Regions from separate parts of the Homo sapiens genome. Here regions 1 and 2 are each linked to region 3. Evidence: fine-mapped expression QTL. A gene starts in region 3. Each other region holds a variant in brackets. All regions are shown on one strand. Distances are from middle to middle.

Region 1 (2,759 bases), 140 kb before region 3:
GCATATTTCATTTTTACCATCTAGCATAAGGAGCAGCTCCAAATAGCAAACTGAAATAAAATTCAGTAGATCTGTGGAATCTCAAAGTTGGAAAAGACCATAAAATAATCTACCCTTGCCCAGCATTTAAAACTCAACATTTTGAATTTTTTGTAAAATGTCTTATCTTGAACTCCTCAAGTTTTTGAGGACTTAGAACCTCCTCACGTAATTCATTTCATATTTAGACATATTTATTGGTCAAAAATTTGCTCTTTTTGTAATTTCTGTTAGTCATCCCTCTGACTTTCTGGCCATATGAAACAGGGTTAGCCTATTTTTCACTTACTGGCCCTGATTTTTAGAGAGAAGCTCTAGGGACTGCCTTCTCATTGCCACTCTGCCGCTTTCATAGTTGAATCTCACACCTAGATTATTAAAACAGCTTCCTAACTAGTCTTTTTTGCCTCCAGCCCTATCACCCTCCTGCCCATTCTTTACACTACAGCCAGAATGACTTCACCCCAAACGCTTGAAGACTTCCTCTTCTCAGTAATACAGTATATTTGGCTCGCTAATGACTGAACACTGCCTTTATCTGTAACCTTTTTCTAAACTACTTTTTCTGTAAACTCCACCCAGCAGCCATACCAAAAGATCTGCATTTAGAACTGCTTTTTCTCATGTCTGGGCCTTTATAATGCCTTTCTTTCTGTCTGAAACAAACAAAAAGAGTTTCCTTTTTCTTTGACTCCTGCTTATCCTTTTACACTTTAGCTTAGAAGCCTAGAGCTTTCTTTGGTAAGTTTCCACAAGCACTCTGGGTGCTCCTGTAGCACCCTCTGTCTCTCCAGTGTAGCACTTATCACATTATCTTAGTGGTGACTGTTTAGTCTCTGTCCCTCACTAGATTCTCTGTCTGTCACTAGACTGAAGCTCTGTGAGGTTAAGGATGATATTTTGATTACAGTTATATGTCCAGCACTCAGCACAGTGCTTTGACACACACTATAAATATTTGTTGGATGGATGGGGAATGGCTCTGAGACTTCACTTTTTTACTCATGCTAATTGTTCATGTTCCTTCACCTGGTCCTCAGGTGATGTGGTTTTGGGTCTGTTTACCATCACTAGGTAATCATTTAAACTCAGATTTGCTCTCT[C/G]TCAAAGTGTAGTTTTCAGAACTATATCCCAGGTATTATTTTATTAGTCCAAGAAAGAATAGGAATATTACTTGTGTGCTTCTTTTCATTCACTCAGAAACTCATATTGAGCCTCTATTAAATTTCAGGCACTGTGTTAAACAGTAAAGATTTTAAAAATGAATATAAGCCCCCATCCATAAAGAGCTTACATAAATAATTATGGTGATATGATGTGAACAGGATGTTATAGGAGATAGGGAGATGGTAAAATTTGTCCAGCCCTTTTCTGCAAAGCCTTCTGACAGAAAATGTAAAATTTTTGCTGAGCTTTAGTCACTGAGTGTGAGTAACATGGGCAAAGATATGGGACCAAGAAAGCCATGAGTTTTAGGAAACACTAAGGTCCTTTGTAGCTTGAATATTGTGATTCTACATCTGTGAAGCCTCCCAAATCCAGACCTTTCTCATATCAGGATATCTGCCTGGACCTTCGAAAACACCTCTGATTTCTCTGCCTTATCTAAGGCTCTCTTTCTGTTGCCTGAAAGTCTGTGTCTTTTCAGAGGGACCCTGTGGTATAGTGAAAAGAACACTTTCTCTAGATGCTTTATTTCTATTAAGTAAAAATTCTTCTAGTGACTTTTCCTTAATCTACAAAGAACTCCTAGAATCTATGAGAAAACAAAAGAATATCTCAGCAGAAAAATGGCTAAATAAAATACAGACTGGCTGATAAGCCTAAAGAGATCTTTGACTTTATTAGTAATCAAAGAATTGCAAATAAAATTATAATAGTATTTTATTTTTTCACTGATAAGATTTGTCAAAATTATGGAAATTGTTAAAACACAGTTTTAGCAAATATGTGGTAAACACACCTGTGTACTTTCGGTAGGAATAGAAATTGAGTCTGGGCAATATAGTGAGACCTTGTCTCTACTACAAAGAAAAAAATTAGCCAAGCATAGTGGTGCACACCTGTAGTCCCGGCTACTCTGGAGACTGAGCGGGGAGGGTTGCTTGAGTCCAGATCGGGGTTACAGTGAGATATGATTGTGCCACCACACTCCATCCTGGGTATCTGAGTGAGGCTTTGTCTCAAAAAAAAAAAAAAAAAAAAAGTTGGCTTATACTTGTAATCCCAGCACTTTGGGAGTCCGAGGCAGGAAGATGACAAGCCTAGGAGTTTGCAACTAGCCTGGGCACCATAGGGAAACCCTGCCTCTAAGAAGAAAAATCAGTATGTTCTTTCTAGAGGATATTTCAGCAATATATATGTTGTATCAAAATCTAAACTATGCATGCTCTTTGTCCACTAATCCCACCCTTAGGACAAATCCCAAATCTGTGTCTCATGCCTGTAATCCCAGCACTTTGGGAGGCCGAGGCAGTTAGATCACTTGAGCTCAGGAGTTCGAGAACAGCCTGGGCAATTTGGCATAGCCCTGTCTCTACAAAAAATACAAAAATTAGCTAGGAATGGTGGCACACACCTGTAGTCCCAGCTACTAGGGAGGCTGAGATGAGAGGATCGCTTGAGCCCGGGAGGTCAAGGCTGCAATTAGCTGTGTTCACACCACTGTACTCCAGCCTGACACTGACTCAAAGCAAGACCCCGTCTCAAAAAAAATAAAA
Region 2 (2,759 bases), 27 kb after region 3:
TTCTGAAGCAGTAGTTACATGAGGCCCACCCTCATCCCACTCCTGAGCTTTTGGGGTTCTGCAGGGCAAACAGGGCTGCTTCTCTGCTTTCACTGCTGCGGGCTTAAGATCCGGCACTCAAGGTCAGCTTAGTCGGTTCTATGCATCCATCTGCTTTCCGGCTTCCCAATTTTTGTTACTATTGACTCCTCTCCACAAGATTTGTCTTTAAAAACAGCCTCTTTACTCTAGTTCCACCATATAGTAAAGACAAATGCACACGGCCAATCTACATCTGCAAATGCAACTGCCCTGATTTTTCAAATGTTTTCTATTTGATCTTTTCAAAAAAGTATGATTGTAACAAATTTAAACTTACAAAGTTCTTTATTCTCTGCTTCCTGCACCTCAAGTGAAAACTACTAGACAATGAGTGAAAATCATTCCGGTTTACCTTTCCTCCCTCCTCTCCATCTCCCCCAAAGTAAAACTTTCAATGTCTTACTTACCTGGGGAACTAGACTGACGTGGATGTTACAAAAGTTCTCTCTTTTGACCTTGAATTGGAACTGACGGAAGGCCTCAATAAAGGGCATGCTTTCTATGTCCCCCACGGTTCCACCAAGCTAGAAGAACAAAGTTGTTTCAGAGGTTAGGCACTAAACCCTTCTCTGGCAGTTTAGTTTTCTAACAACTGTTCTGTCTTCCTGATTCAGTATCAGTAATTATGTAACACGGACTCTCTAACCCTGTATAATGTTAGTTAACAGTTAACAGGAATTAGACAACTCTTTGTACTAAAAGGTTATTCTTTTGGACAGGCTCATCCTTCCCAAAGGTTATTATGGAACTTTCCACATCATTTCAAGAAAAAGGTCAGATGAGAGAGGTGCCAGGAATGTTATCTCTATCACAGTGACAAAGTAAAAAAAAAAAAAAAAGAAAAACCTAAATCTTATCTCCTTAGTTAACCATAAATAATTTTTGTACTGAAAAAGCATCAGTTGGCTGGGCACGGTGGCTCACATCTGTAATCCTAACACTTTGGGAGGCCAAGGCAGGCAGATGGCTTGAGTTCAGGAGTTAGAGACCATCCTGGGCAAAATGACGAAACCCTGCCTCTCCCAAAAAAGTACAAAAACTAGCCGGGCATGGTGGTGCGCACTGTAGTCCCAGCTACTTGGGAGGCTAAGGTAGGAGAACTGCTTGAGCCCAGGAGGTCAAGGTTGCAGTGAGCCATGACTGCTGCACTGGACTCCAGCCTGGGTGACAGAGTGAGACCCTGTCTCAAAAAAAAAGTATTAGTTATAAACAAACTGCTGGAACTTTTGAGTCTCCTGTTATCTGAGGAACACTGAGATCCAACAGCTAGGATCAGCACAGCAGGAGTACAGATACTGAAACCAAATGAAGCTCATTCGGAGACGAATGCTCTTGC[C/A]AGACGAAAGCAAAAGATCTGCTGACTTGCTCAAGAGACAGATGAAAATGTGTCACACTACTCATGGGGACAATCAGTACTAAGTGATTGTACCATAAATGCTACAAAAAAGGAACACTGGGCAAACTACGGTTTTCCCTTGCGTGGCCATTCCACATGACTGTTAACTGTGCCCTTACCTGCCACATTGCAACATACTGCACCAGAGATAGGAAGGCCAAGGGCTCCACTGGGAACTGTCTTATCAGTTATTGATGGCTGACTAAGGAGATGAGTACACTTGTTCACATGTGCAGGAATCATACAAACCTCAATAACACACACTTGAGGTTCCAGGCCATCTTCATCTACAGGTATTAACGCCTGTCTCATCACCCACTCCTGGATTGCATCTGTGATATGAGGGACAACTGGGAAAAAGAAAACAAACAGGGAACTTACGCTTGTCCATCTACATTGATTGAGACAAATGCACTTACTGTGAAAACAAACTGCAGCACTCTTTGCCTGGAGAGAGTAGCAATAGGGTCATAAAAATACTTTTGAGGCCCCCTTTAACTGGCCTCAACAAATCTCTGAGCTCACACTTCCTGCAGCCAGATGTCTAAGTTGTTGCTGGAAGCCCTGCAACAGAGCAAGGCTGACAGCAGTGTCCTGAGCCACACAGGCGCACGTGCCCCTGTGCAGAGTCTACCCTTTTGGCCACACACCAGTATAGCCAACCCTATTGCTCACAGCTGAAGGTAGGCACATTACACTTCAGTGCACTTCCAGGAACAAGAGACTTCTGGGACCCTGTTCCATATGTTTCCAGTTTACCAAAGGGTAGACAATCCACTGCAGTGAGCCAGCACAGCACAGCAGAGTGGTTAGAAGCACAGCACCCGGGGTCAGAATGTCTGGATTCAAACCTTAGTCTCATGACTCGTTAGCTGTGGATCTTTGGGCCAATTATAGAACCATTTTAAGCTTGTTTTCCCCACCTGTTAAGCTGTGGAAATTTTGTGAGACAGCACCTGTAAAATGCTCGGTAAAGTGCCTGCCATGTCAATGCTCAAAGAATGCCAGCAATTGCTCAACACTTCAAAAATCATAGTTGTTGGGCACAGATGGCAAGTTCCTAAAAGGTGAAGATTACTGTTTAACTCCAGGTTACTCCAGTTACAGCAATGCCTCATGCACAAGGATATTCATTTGCCTCACGCAGAAGAATATTCATTATCTACTCCACACATGGCGTCAAAGTGATCTTTTAAAATTCAAGTCAGAATTCATCACTCCCACACTTCAACTTTTCGGTGGCTTCCCACTCCTCCGAGTACACTCCTAGCTTCTTGCTGCG
Region 3 (2,759 bases):
GCTAAGCTATAAGGGATTGTCCTTCTCCCTAAAATGCTCATTTGGCCCAGGCTGAGGTCTGTGACTCCAGTTGGCTACACAGTGCCAGAAAGGAATCTGTCATCTCAGGAAAGCCCCTCAAAGATGGCGAGGCATATTTGATGACTGTGGTTACAGGGCAAGAGGCCACCCTGCAGCCCCCACCCCTGACTTGCTGGAACTTGTGACTGTCAAAGCTCCATTAATAAATTACATGCACCTGGGACAAGAATGGTTCTTTCTAGGACACTGGGTCAGCCGGTCAGATGCTGCAGGGTCATGAGTCCCAGGCCCAGCCCACCTCTGTCCAGGAGGCAGAGGACAGACCTGCAAGGGCAGGGAGCCCAGCCCCTCAGACTCCAGTCCAGCTCTGTCTTAAAGACCAGGGACCGTGGGGCAAAGTGCTATGCCTCTGTGCTTCAGTTTCTTCATCTATAAGACAGTGACAATGGCCAGGGGCATTTTGTCACCATCGGGCCAGTGCCCTGTGTCTACGCCAGCTGTGGCACAGAGCAGCACCTCACACTAAGGGTCTCAGTTCCTTTCCAAGACCCCTCTGGTCCAGTAAGACCGTTAGCTTAAAACAAACAAAAAAAACCAGACTCCTCCAGCTGCTTCCTGCCTCTGGCCGTTTCTCCTGCTGTCTCCACCAGCTGAGCCAGAGGCTGCAAAGCCAGAGTCTGATCACACTCACGCCACACCTGCACCCATAGCCCTCCAAATTCTTCAAGAGCAAAGCCCAAACTTGATGGCCTACATGGTTCTCCACCACCTAGCCCACCCAACCTCAATGTCTTCCGCCCCTTATGTAAGCCACTTCAGCCACGCCCACCAACTTGTTTCATTTGCACTCCTGCCTCGGGGCCTCTGCGCTACATAGCGGCCTATTTCCTTTCCTCTTCACCTTCAAGTCCATGCTTAATTTCCCACCCACCCTATTTTAAAGACACCACCTCCCAGCACTGCCACTCCCCTGCTCACTTCCACCCCTGGTCTCCATCTATGAACTACCACACTCTGTAGCTTATATTTGGTGCTTCCCCCACTGAATAACTGCTCTGGGGGACAGGGGTTTGGGTATGGCTGGCATATGGTAGACACCCAATAAATACCTGCTGGTGAGACAATTAAGGATACTCCTAAATTTGGGGTCTGAGCCACCAGAAAATCACCAAACCTTGTTGAACAGGGCATTTCACAGGACTAGTGTTCCACAGAACACACTTCAGTTGATCCCCTAAAACTTGAAGACCCTGGCCACATCCACAGCAGACACAGATGAGAACTTTGGAACCCCCAGCCCCTCCACTCACCAGCCAGGTGACATTTTCTGGGTGATCACAACTGCTCTGAGACCTGGTTTTCCCACTTAGCAAAGAGCACACAACCCCTGCCTCGGCTGCCATTCATGCTGGTTAGGGACCAATGTGATCACAGACACCTATATGGTGGCAGGTTACCAAACTCCTGCTGCTCACCCCCCGAGCTGCCCCAAGGTCACCAAGACTGTTTGAAAACTACACAAATGTGTTACTCAAGAAGGAGGAGTGGCATTTCTGAGCACCTTCCACGGTCCAGGTACCATGCTAAATGCTAGTCCAGGCACCACAATCCTCGGAAATGTTTTTCGGGGGAAAAGAGCAGATTTCTACAAAGGAAGGGTGAAGTCAGGCTTCAGCCCAGCTGCTCCAGACTGCTAAGAACTGCCCAGATCCCCTGGACTGAAGGGAAGTTCCCTGGACTGAAGGAAGTTACTGAAGGGAAGTTACACATAGCTGTGCCTATTGTTAGGTCACATTAAGAAAGGAACGAGGAATGTGACCAGCTTTCCTCCCCATGAGGGAGAAGCCTCCGGGGACGGGTCAGTAAACACTGGGCACAGGTTGCCCTCCTGTAAATCCAGCTTCAGCCCTATCCTGTCTGCCACAGCCAGCGTGGCGGGGCTGCTCGAGCTTTGCAAGCTCTGGAGAGCCATCTGGGATCTCTTTTTTCAGAAACCTTACATTATGTGGCCAGCACTTGACAAGTGATCAGCCAAAGTGATCTTAAACATAGGGGCAGGAACTTAATTACTGGGAGGCTTTTTCACACCACCCACACACCCAGCCATTGTGGGGGACCATGATGTCAACAACGGGCGTGTCAGACCCTCAGTTTGGGGAATGTTTGAAAAAAAACGGGCCAGACGTGGTGGCTCACGCCTGTAATCCCAGCACTTTGGGACGCTGAGATGAGCAGATCACGGCCAGCCTAGCCAACATAGTGAAACCCCATCTCTACTAAAAATACAAAACAATTAGATGGGCGTGGTGGCAGGCACCTGTAATCCCAGCTACTTGGGAAGGTGAGGCAAACAGAATCACTTGAACCTGCGAGGTGGAGGTGGCAGTGAGCCAAGATCACGCCACTGTACTCCAGCCCAGGCAACAGTGTGAGACTCCATCTCAAAAAAAAGACTATTGACCAGGTGCAATGGCTCATGCCTATAATCCCTGCACTATGGGAGGATCGCCTGAGGCCAGGCGTTCAAGACCAGCCTGGCCAACACAGCGAGACCCTGTCTATTAAAAAAAAAAAAAATTTAATTAGCTGGGCGTGGTGATGTGAACCTGTAGTCCCAGCTACTTGGAAGGCTGAGGTGGGAGGATCTTATGAGCCCAGGAGGTCTGCAGCAAGCCGTGCTTGTGCCACTGCACTCCAGCCTGGGCAACAGAGTGAGACCCTGACTCAAAAAAATAAAT

Which allele goes with the higher level. Alleles are on the strand shown, and positions count from the first base shown. SD is a standard deviation of normalised expression in the study named. Not every link is listed here.
With allele A in place of C in region 2, the expression in ovary of the gene that starts at base 1,249 in region 3 is lower (small effect, 0.37 SD a copy in GTEx).

The links. PIP is the estimated chance that this variant, and not a neighbour inherited with it, causes the effect.
Region 1: its variant is fine-mapped to the expression of SLFNL1-AS1 in whole blood (TOPMed, PIP above 0.99).
Region 2: its variant is fine-mapped to the expression of SLFNL1-AS1 in ovary (GTEx, PIP above 0.99).

Annotation. Positions count from the first base shown.
Region 1 is chr1:41,156,440-41,159,198 of GRCh38, reverse strand. The region is part of intron 4 of SCMH1 (Scm polycomb group protein homolog 1); the gene reads left to right. Among named protein-coding and RNA genes, the nearest start is that of SCMH1, 84 kb to the left of the region's middle. RefSeq lists a silencer at 2,371-2,560. The variant C/G (reference allele first, on the strand shown) is at 1,143.
Region 2 is chr1:40,986,440-40,989,198 of GRCh38, reverse strand. It overlaps CTPS1 (CTP synthase 1), which reads right to left. Exons shown (of 19, transcript NM_001905.4): 4 at 1,727-1,827; 5 at 489-605. Among named protein-coding and RNA genes, the nearest start is that of CTPS1, 8.1 kb to the right of the region's middle. The variant C/A (reference allele first, on the strand shown) is at 1,418.
Region 3 is chr1:41,013,080-41,015,838 of GRCh38, reverse strand. It overlaps SLFNL1-AS1 (SLFNL1 antisense RNA 1), which reads right to left and starts at 1,249. Exons shown (of 4, transcript NR_037868.1): 1 at 1-1,249. SLFNL1 (schlafen like 1) reads left to right here. Exons shown (of 6, transcript NM_144990.4): 6 at 1-242.